Regions from separate parts of the Homo sapiens genome. Here region 1 is linked to region 2. The links come from fine-mapping of genetic effects on gene expression. A gene starts in region 2. The other region holds a variant in brackets. All regions are shown on one strand. Distances are from middle to middle.

Region 1 (5,362 bases), 77 kb before region 2:
CCTCTCCCTCCACACCTCCCTGCAGGCTGAGGGAGCCAGCTCCGGCCTCGGCCATCCCAGGAAGGGGCTCTCACAGTGCAGCGGCAGGCTGAAGGGCTCCTCAAGCGTGGCCAGAGTGGGCACCAAGGCCAAGGAGGCACCAAGAATGAGCTGAGGGCTGCCAGGGCTGCCAGCACGCTGTCACCTCTCACTGGGACTTTTATTTGTCCATCAGTAAAGAGGAAGAGATCATCACCAAGGTCCCTCCCCTGCTGAGCATCATTCCAGAGCACCATCATGGAGGAGACGTCCCTGCCCCTGTCTTCACTTATATCCTCCCTGGGCCCCTGTCTTCACTTATATCTCACCACATCCCATGGGCATGTTTTGGGGTCACACCCCCAAAGCCACAGGGCCCATGTGTGGGTGGAAGGAAATTCCTATTCATTCAACATTCTGTGAGTGTTGGGCCTTCAGTGAGCCAAACCCATTTTAGGTGTTATGTGGAAGACAAAAAAGAGACAAGATGTGATGCCTGCCCTCAAGGATCTCATCATCTCTGGAGAGATAAGATGAACGTACTCAGAAAATAATAAAGTCTAGAAACATAACAGGAAAGTGCATGGAAATGTACACAGAGGCACCAAGTGCAAGTGGGACTCTGGGGGCAGCTGCCTGGGGAGGGGAGATTGGAGGAGGCCTTGAAAGGGTGATGTGCCCTTGCTGGAGGAGCTGGGGCAGCGGCATGGAGCTCAGGTATGACAAGATGGGTATGGGGTTGGCCTGGCATGTCTGACCAGGTGGGGTGGGGCTTCCCAGAGATGGGGTGACACAGGTGTGGCTGCTTCATTCCATCCAGGCCCACAGACCTGGGCCCAGGACCAGCCAGCACCACAGGTCCAAAACCACATTGGACAGATGTCATCCTGTAGGAACATGTTCCCCGAGGAGGGTCCCTTCAGCCCTAACTAGGATGCCTGGATACACAGACACACAGCACATCCTGGCCAGGGCGGGGGCTGTGGGAAGGATCCAAGCATTGCACTGCAGCTTTTATCACACCTCACCCTTCTCCATCCCCACAACCAAATCGATAAAGGGTCATCTCCTACCTGAACCGTTCACAAACTCCTTTCTCCCTCTTCCTGTCACCCTCACAGCTGGCCTCTTGCTCTCTTCGCTGGCATGATGGGTGCCCTTGGGCTTCTCCCTGGGCTCTGCCAGCTGGACCTTCAGCCTGGGACAAGCCTTTCTAGGCAGTTCATCCCTGAGAACACTGTGGTGGCCACATGAGGGAGGCAGATCCTCCCCCGCCCTGGCTCCCGCCCATATCCCAGCAGGCTCCTCCTCCTGCACTCTTCATTGGCTTCTTCCCTTCCTCCCCTCATCACCGGGCTTCTCCTCAGTGCTGTCAGCTTGGGCCTCTTCCCTTCACCCATGATGCCTGTGGCCTTCTGGAAGGGTCACATGCCCCTCTCCCAGACCCTCAGGGCCCTCCATCCTGAGCCCAAGCCCTCCCTCTAGCCTTAACCTGAAAGATTCCCTCAGAGCCCGCCACATAGTTCTAGGGCCACGCTGCCTCTGTGTCTTCGTTCCAGCTGCACCTTCAGCCTGGAAGGCCTTCCTCCTGCCTTCACCTGATAAGTCCCTTCCTGCCCTCCAGATTCACCTCGAACCCCACCTGTCTCAGAGCAAAATGCACATAAGGGTGCACTTTGGAGTCAGAGACCTTGGCCCTTAATTCCTGCTTGGCCACTTTCCAACCATGTGGACCTGGGCAAGTCACTTCACATCCTTCTGAGTCTGTTCAATGAGTAATAAACTTTCCCAGTTCATGAGAGGAGGGGACGATCCCTAGCTCAGAGGTGAGAATGGAATGAATCAGGTATATGGAGTGCTCAGCACAGCACCTGCTCCTGGTCTGTCCTCAGGAGTGCCTGTCATTGGGGTGTGTTTCTGGTCCCCTCTCACCAACTGTGGAGCTTCAGAACATTCTGAGTCTCTCTGACAGCGCCCAAATTGGACGTTCTTTAGAGCTGGCAAACTCCTCTCAATTAGAACTCTTCTTTGCACCCCTTTTGGTCTTATACAAAATGTTTTTGTTGAATGGAAATAAGGATTCCCCTGTCCTGAAAAGAACAAACACTTCCTGTGGCTGGAAGTGCCCAAAGCCAACAAACGCCTCTCTGCCAGCACCTGCCTTCCGACCCTGAGGCCAGCCCAGCACCTCACCTCACACCTCACCCCTGTGTGTTAGACCACTTTGGCCTTTTTCTGGTTCCTCCTGTGCCTGCAGCAGAGTGACCTTGGACAGGGAAAGGCCTGGCTGAGCAGAGATGACCCCCAATAACAGCCAAAGAAGAAGCTGTGCTCGTGCAACTGACAGAACCTGCCCACCAGCCAGGCTGCTCCTCACAGACCTTCTTCTCGTGCTGTGCAAACAGAATGAATGGTGCCAAAGGCCAGGTGGAGTTACACTATTGGCATGGGAAGAGGCCTAAGGTGTTCATATTTTTGTATGCACAGAACAAAAACTTTGAAAGGATATCCTCCCACTTCCTCCTCCTCCTCCTCCTCTTCCTCTCCT[G/T]CTCTCTTCCTCTTTCTTCTCCCCCTCTTCCTCCCCCTCCCCCTCCTCCCTCTCCTCCTCCCCTTCCTCCTCCTCTTTCTCCCCCTCCTCCCCTTCCCCCTCCTCTTCATCCCACTTCCCCTTCTCCCTCCTCCTCCTCTTTCTTCTCCTCCTCCTCCTCCTTCTTCTTCTTCCTCTTCTTCTTCTTCGATTTTCCTGCTTTAGCTCCATTTTTCAGGAAATTATACATTTCCCATTCTATTTGTGGGCAGGGTGTGTAGCTCACCCTTCCCGCAAGGGGGAACATTTTTCTGGCTTTGTTGATTTCTGTATTATTTCTATTTTTTCAAAGAGATGAAGTGTTTTTTTTTAAACAAGTAAAGAAAAAACAAAACATTGAATGAATAAATAAGTAAATAAATACATGGCTTTAGCCCACGCTCTCCCTTTTCAAGAATTTGCTCTTCCATAAATCCACCTTCCCCCAGGGACTTACTCAGTTTAAGCAGTCAGTGATCTTCCAACTAGTCCCCTTGGGATAGAAAACTGAAGAATTGAGGCCCTGTGGGGGTGGCTGTGGAAATCACACAGCCAGGGCTGTCCCAGTTCCCTGCCATCACTATGACTAAGGCAATGCCTGCTGGCCAGTATCCAGCCAAAATCCCTCCAAGGATGGGGAGAGAAGAGAAGCCTCTCTTTCCAGCACACCCAGAGTGGCCCTGATTGGCTAGGCCAGGGGCACTGGATCAGCATCTCCCAGGCTCAGAGAGTTTCCTTCCTAAGGCCCCAGGGTTCTCTCCCACCAGCTGACCTCAGAGGATCTGCCTTCATCTCTTAGAGATGTGAGAAATCATGGTCCCCAGCAAGCAGGAGGCAGGTTCCTGAGGCTGCTCAGGGCCACTGCACAGCTGACACCTCCTTCCCAGCAGCCTTCCAGCTCCACCTGCAAAGGAACGTGTGAGAACGGGGTCCAAACCGTCCCATCATGCCTGTCCTTCCCCCAGGACAGTAGGTGTCTACTCACAGAAGTCCACACAACTCAAAGCAAAGAGAACCCACTCAAGGCGGTGAGCAGAGTCTCTCCTTATCCAGCCCTCTTCCTAAGAGAAGAACTAAATGACCAGGCAAATCAGAGGTGTCACCACACACAGTGACAAGGGGAGCTCTTGTCCAGCTGGACTGGGCCTCACTTGAAGGCTTATTGGGGAATTAGTTAATCAGCAGTCCAGCAGCCTCCCGGAGCCCCCAGACAAATGGAAAGGACATTTCTGGGGTTCATCTCCCAGCCCCCTTTCCTGCCCTCTACCCAACCATGCCCTTATGCCTCATACTCCAGTTAGACTAAATGCACCCAGCACTCATCATTTATGAGGCTTTGCATACGGTAATTTCTCAGCAGAGACCACCCCCTTCCCTCCCTCCTCCCCCGCCTGGATAACTCTTACTTCAAATGCAATCCGTGCCCCTGGAAAACCACCCTGCCATTTCCCCTAACTTCCTTGGTGTCCCTCCTCTGGCCAGGCCCACTGGCACCCTGTGCCCCCAGAATAGCCCTGATCCTCAGTCTTTTGTGGATCATAGGTCTGTCTTTGTATAGATGCAGGAGTCCTTGAGAACTTTGCCTTTCTATAGCCCCAGTTGCCAGCACCTAGCAGCGCAGCACTGAGTAGCTGCTCAATAAAAATGTGTTGAAGTGAATAAAGCCATGAATTAGAATGTAGATTAAGACCTAGAGGCCAGGAGAGGTGGCTCATACTTAGAATCCCAATATTTTGGGAGGCCGAGGCAGGAGAATTGCTTGAGAACAGGAGTCCAAGACTAGCCTGGGCAATATGGCGAGACCCCATCTCTACAAAAAAAAAATAGTTGGACTGTGTGCCTGTGGTCCCATCTACTCAGGAGGCTGAAGTGGAAGGATCCCTTGAGCCTGGGAGGTAGTGAGCCATGATCCTGCCACTGCACTCCCGCCTGGGTGACAGAGAAAGACCCTGTCTCAAAAAATGTTTAAAATTTAAAAAATTTAAGAAGACCTAGAATTTAAACTCCTCCCATTGGTACAAGGAAGGAGTGAAATGAAGGCTCCTTCTCCTGACATCCCAAACTACATCTGATAGTCTGTTCTGCCTGTTGGCCAGGCCCCAGACCTCCACCTTCTGACTCTATCCTCTCCTTGCCCTTTGCCTCCATGAAGCTCTTTCTAACCACCCTGGTGTCTGAACCCCCAAGCCCTTGCTGCCTGAGCCCTTCACCTGCCACTCGATTGGTCCTGCTTTGGTTCCTGATTAGATGTGGGCCTGATTCTTCTCCCTACCCAGGGCTGAAAGCTCCAAAAAGGCAGCCAGCCTGGCTTCTGCTCCTTTGCCTCCCCCAAAGGAGAGGTGCGGGGTATGGCCCAAAGTCTGCATTTCATAAATTAGCAAAATGGCTGAGTGAATTGATGAATGGCTTAATTTCCAAGGAGGGTTTCACATTATTACACAGCTCCCTACATCCCTGTGGGACTTGGTGAATCTCTTGTGCCTTCTCCAAAGAACGTGTGCTATGGCACATGGCACATGTAGGCATATTCACACTCCTCTCAGTGTGCATAAGACCCTTTGGGTCCCCTACTACCCCACACCTTCTGAGTGCCCGCTGCTCCCACCCCAGGTTCACATGTTTCTTTCCCAGCCCTACTGTAGAAGAAAGAGCTCAGGGGCTGAGGGCAGGAGCCTGATGTCACCTCAGCTTTGGTCCTGACTTGCTGGGAGGTTTGCCCTCTATATGCCTCACCTTTCTGTATCTATGTATTTTCTTTCTTTCTTTCTTTCTTTTTTT
Region 2 (5,362 bases):
CAAAATACTCATGTGTTACAGCATGCTAGGAATTAGCCAACAGCTGCTTTTTGCTTCGGTAATGAGGCCCTATTACACTCTGCTGGACTGAGTTCTCTTCCTTCTTCCTAGCACTGGTTTCCTGTCTGATTTTCTTCCAAAACCGGGAATTGCCTCCGCTCACATCCTGGGCTCAAAGCCCTAGTGACACAGATTATTCAGTTGGGGCACTGATGTCCGGTCTGACTTCCCTCCAGGCCCCAGGGTCTATGCTAAACCAGGCAGTGAGATTGTAATACTCCAATGATCACTGCTAAAGACACATTAGGGAAAAGAACAGAGAAGAAATCAAAAGATCCCTTCCTGATTTCAGGGAGGAGGAGACAGACAGGCGTTTGGGGTTTGTCGAACGGGAGACGGAGGGAGTGGGTACAGACTTCAACCTATTCCCTCATTATGTTTACATTCAACACAAACCACTAGCGGGGCTGGGAAGCAAACATAATCAACAACTTTTCGGATTTTAAACTCATCACCTTGGTGCTCATTACGAAGGGTGCATTGACTGCACCCTCAATGAACAGACTAGGCTGTCTCTACTGTGGGTGCTTATAGGAGCACCATGGGAGGCAGAGGGAAGACAGAAAAGCCATTTTGGGGACTCACCAGGTATAGGGAATCACTTTGGAACAAGGGACCCCCCCATCAGATCCAAAAGAGAGCCACGTTCCAAAATTCTTTCCAGCTGAGTCCACCCCTCCCTGGAAGCCCACCCTAGCCCCTTCTAGAGGCCAAGGCCACCGCCTTATGGAGCATGAGCATCCCTTGCTGCAGCCAACTATGCTAGACTCCACAGATGCTGACCACGGTGGGCTTCATGTTGTATTGGGCCTGCGTTAACCCAGCTCTCTCTCGAGACAGAGCGGGTGGGGGAGCTGCAGCAGAGGGCAGACACGCCATCAGCACCCCCCCGCCAACAGCACCTTCCTGGTATTTATAAACACAGAGATCACACGCACAATCCCTCCAGTGCAAACCAGTCCGGCTGCTTTAGAAACAAGTTGTTTTCTGCTTCCAGAACCACCCAGGAGCCTGCGTGATGTCTCTTCCCCCACCCGACCCCCTCTTCCCTCTGCCGGTCTCCTTGCTCCAGGTACCCCCAGACCCTCAAGGTGCTCCTTCGTTCCTGGGGGGCAGTGCAGCCTCCTGTCCGTGATCCTTACAGAAGACGGGTCGGCGGGGGGGCAGGCAGGCAGGCAGGGGGCACACAGGCGGCATGAGCCAACCAAGGCTGGCTTCTTCCTTCCTGACCTTCGCACCTGATTCCCAGAGCGGCAGCCCTCGCCCTCGCTCCAGATTACTTGAAGGAGTCCAACCATGTTTCTGGGTCCCCAACCCCTTTCAGAAAGGAGTTATGACTGATGGAGAACGGGGAGGAGAGAGAGAGGGCTTTCCTGAAGGAATAGGGTCCCAGGATGTCGAGAGGTGCCAGTGGGTGCAAAGATTTTCTTGTCTGTCCACCACCCAGAGAGAAGACGCGGGGCAGGGGTGGGGGGGGGGGGGCAGACACTGGGGAGGGGGAGTAGTTCTTGGAAGGAGGTAACAGGCTCCTGGTAGGGGGCCTACAATTCCAGGAGTCTATCTGGGTAAAATATAACGTGAGAGGAAAAGGGCATGTTGTCTCTTCAAGCCCACTCTCCAATCCCCTAGTTTAAAAGGGGGTGGGGGGGAAGGGGAGGACGAAAATCCAGAACTTACAACGGTGGCCCGTAGGTATTTTCTCGCCAAGAAAAAGAAAAGAAAGCAAAAGAGGCAGTGGCGGCGAGAAGAGGGCAGGGGTCCGCCCGCGCCGCCAGGTGCACCGGGGCCCGCACCTACCTGCTGGCCGCCGCCGCCGCTGGAGTAGGACTCGGCGTGCGCAGGAGAGCCGCTGCTGCCCCGGGACGAGGTGTCAAAGTTCCCGGGATAATCCTGGTACATGATCCGCGGTGGGGGCCGGAGAGGAAACAGGGTGTTTTTCTTCCCCCGCCCTCGCCGCGGCCGCGCACCGGCTGCTGCGCGCTCGTTCGTCCGCCGGCCGCGCCGCGGGCTCTGGGCTTCGCTCCTGGGTTTCTCCCCCACCGCGGAGGGCGAGGACAGGGAGGCGGCGACACCTCAGGAACAGCGTCCCCCGAGCGTCCCTTACAGCACTTCTTTCCGGCTCTGCGAGCGCCGCGGGACCAGTTGTCCACCCGATCCCTCCCTCTAAAAAGTCGGCGCGTCTCTCGGTCCCTCCCCTGCGCGCGCCCTCCCGCCCCCGCGCGCAGCCGGAGCTCAGCGGGGACCCACGGCCCAATCAAAAATTGGAAATTAAAAAAAAGATTAGGAGCCCAGCGAGCCTGGCCTGCCAGCCCTGGGGACCCCCGATTTCAGACAGGGCCAAAAAGGCGGAAAGAAAAGCTGTCCGCTGGGAGAAACTTCTGTTTCTTCCTTTTAGAAAAGGAGCCGGAGAATAAACTTCCCGTGGCCGACTCGCCGCCCGAGTTTCGGGGCGGCTCGGATACTTGACTAGGAGAAGGCGGCGTGCGCCCGTCCCGCGGCCCCGAGCGCGCCAGGGGGACAGCGGCTCGTGGGGCTCAAGTAGAGCTGGCGCTGAGAGGGACGCGGCCCCGCTCCCCGCTCCGGCGCCCAGACCCGCACCCCTTCCCCGGAGCCCGCTCCCGGACGGGCCCGCCTCGCCCGGCCGCGCCTCTCCCTCTCTCTCTCTCTCTCTCTCCCTCTTTCTGTCCCCGCCGAGCGCCGCTCGTTCGCTCGCTCGCTGGTTCGCTCGGAGCCCTAGCGCTCTGCCCGAGATGAGTCACTACAATGGCACGAGTTCAACTCACACTCTTTATTCTCCAGCCCTGTACCATGTGGATTCACTCACGTCAACCCCAGACTCCACCTTGCAGGGAGGAGCGCACGAGGAGGCGGGGGGAGGAGGCCGCGGAGGAGGAAGAGGCGCGGGAGGGGAGGAGGCGGGCGCAGCTCTCCCCTCCCAGCCCCGGCTCCCGGCCGCGCTGACGCCAACCGCGCACCCCGCGCGAGGAAGCCAGGCGGTGGCACGGGCGGGAGCGGGCGCCACGCACGGTTCGGAGGCGCCGAGGCAGCCCCGGCCCTCCCCAGTCCCCCGCTCACCCCCCGGGCCCAGCGCCCTTGGTCTGTTCCATTGGCGCACGTTGCCAAAGATGGTCATTTGCGTTAGAGGACGCGAGTGCGGGTTTCCTCGCTTTCGGGTGACGTGGAGGGAGAGGGATTCCCTCGCCCGCTCCCGAGTGCGCTGCGGCCTCTCCCCCGCCCTGGGAAGGGGCTCGGGGCGGGGCCCCGAGAGCGGCCGCGCGGGTCTCGCCTCCGGATTTTAGAAAATAATCACAGCCCTGACGGCGAGACGGGCGGTTCGGTGCGGCGCCACCGGGAGGCCGGGAGCCGGGCGCGCAGAGCCGCTCGCAGGGAGGGCGCGGCTGCGCGCGGTCGTAGGCGCCCTCCGCGGCGCCGCCGAGTGCAGCGGGCGCCCCGGGCGCGCAGGGTGCCCGCGCCGCCCTGCGGCCGGGTGTTGGCGGGGCACGGCGCCGGGCGGGGCTGGCCTGCCTATTTTTCCCTCCGTGGCGGTCTGCCTACCGGTTCCCTTTTTGTTTTTTGTTTTTCATGTTTTCGGTCCTACAGTTAATTCGTTAGGAGTAGCCTTGAAGATGAAATTAACCAGTCAAGACATTCCGGCCGCCCTATACGCCGGGCAATTAGGACGCATCTAATAAGAGTAATCGGGCGTTTATAAGCAAACTCCAGACTGTTACGAATTAAAAAAAAAAAAAAAAAGCCAGCGAGAGGGTGTGCCCCAACGTTGTCGTCTTCAGCTGTTTTGGAGCGAAGTTCAGGGCGCGGGTTGCCGGACATTTGGGTCCTCCTCCCTCGCTGGGCGGGGCTGGGAGGGGCGCGGCGCAGGGTACAGAGCACAGACCTTAGAGCAGGAACGCCCGGCTACGCTATTTACGAGCTGTGAGATCTTGGACGAATTCCTTAACCTCTCTGGGCCTCAGTTTCCTCCTATAAAGTGAAGGAGTTTGGAGACATGACCTTAGGCCCTTCTCTGCTCTGGAGCTCCAATCCTTCCGCTGAGATGATGGTGTGTGTGAATGGAGAAGTACTGTAGCGGAAGTCAGGGAACTTAGGTTTTGGTCCAGGGTCTGTGTTAGCCTCAGTTTACCCAATTCTTAAGTAGCGCCAGCCATCTGTACCCCACAGGGTCCTTATGAGGACCCAATGTTAAGAGGTGTTGAGAGTCCATTGCTGACAACTCGCTGTGCACCGTCACACAACTTCTGTCCTCAGTTTCCTTATCTGCAAAGTGGGGGTGTTGGTAGCAGAGAAAAATAGAGCCGGGAACGCGAAGCTTTCCTGGGGCTCTATATAAAGCGCTGGCATTTCCGGGACGGCTGGCGGCATCTGGCCGCCCCAAGGGCCCCAAGATACGGTAATCCCAAACAATACTCGGGGTCATTGTTTACAGCTATAAAACACATTCTGTCCTGAACGCTATCCCCAAGGACGCGCGCGCGTGCGCGACGAGGCGAGGCCAGCCAGACTCCTCGCACCTCCGCTGCTGCCCGCTGGACAGAGTCCCCAACTCCGCAGGCCCAGGAGAGGGGTGTGGGGCAGGCGGACGCGCGCGCCGGCCGTGGGTGCTTTGCTTTTTTCTTCCCCCTCCCCATCCCTGCGTCCTGGCTTGCCTGGGTGTTTACGCGCCTCTCCCAGCAGGACTGAGTAAATGCAGTCCTTTGACGCAAAACGAATCAGTCCTTCCCCAGCGGCAGCAGCAAAACTCAGAAAACTGGGGGTGGGGGTAGGGACGGGAGGGGCACAGAAGAAATCGTGACATTTTCCCACTCGGTTCTCAGCCCCTCCCCGCGCCACGCGGGCCTCAGGCCGCCCTAGCCAAGTCTTGGGGGCTGCAAAGGGAGGCGCGGCCAAAGCGCCCTGCCTGAGCCCTCCCAGTAGCAACCGCGTGTCGGAGCGGCGCGAACAGACGCACTTTTGGTTTTCCTTTGAGCAGTAGAGGCTGCCCCGCCCTCCCCCACCTGGCGGTCGAAAATCCGGGTGCTTCTGGGTCTCTCCCACACAGTCCTTCCAGTAACGCGGGGGGAAAGAGGCGGGGGAAGGGGAGCGGGAGCTTCCTCCGCGGCCTCCGCAGTCCCGGGCGCGCCCAGCCCCGGCCAGGCGCCGCCGGGAGCGCGCGGGCGAGCGCACCCTCGCGCCCTCGCCCGCCCTCGCCCTGCCAGCTCCCCGGTCCTTTCCTTTCTTGTGGGTTCCCGTAAAGCCCAGCAGCCTGGAGACGTCTGCAGAGCATCACGGAATCTGTGCTGATGCA

The links. PIP is the estimated chance that this variant, and not a neighbour inherited with it, causes the effect.
Region 1: its variant is the best candidate, but not a certain one, in a credible set for the expression of FOSL2 in whole blood (TOPMed, PIP 0.80).

What each region holds. Positions count from the first base shown.
Region 1 is chr2:28,467,343-28,472,704 of GRCh38, reverse strand. No RefSeq gene overlaps it. Among named protein-coding and RNA genes, the nearest start is that of PLB1, 26 kb to the left of the region's middle. The variant G/T (reference allele first, on the strand shown) is at 2,567.
Region 2 is chr2:28,390,318-28,395,679 of GRCh38, reverse strand. It overlaps FOSL2 (FOS like 2, AP-1 transcription factor subunit), which reads right to left and starts at 2,822. Exons shown (of 4, transcript NM_005253.4): 1 at 1,858-2,822. The coding sequence starts at 1,959. It overlaps FOSL2-AS1 (FOSL2 antisense RNA 1), which reads left to right and starts at 1,008. Exons shown (of 2, transcript NR_103831.1): 1 at 1,008-1,132. RefSeq lists enhancers at 704-1,204, 1,205-1,705, 1,861-2,792 and silencers at 1,823-1,999, 2,486-3,605, 5,153-5,222.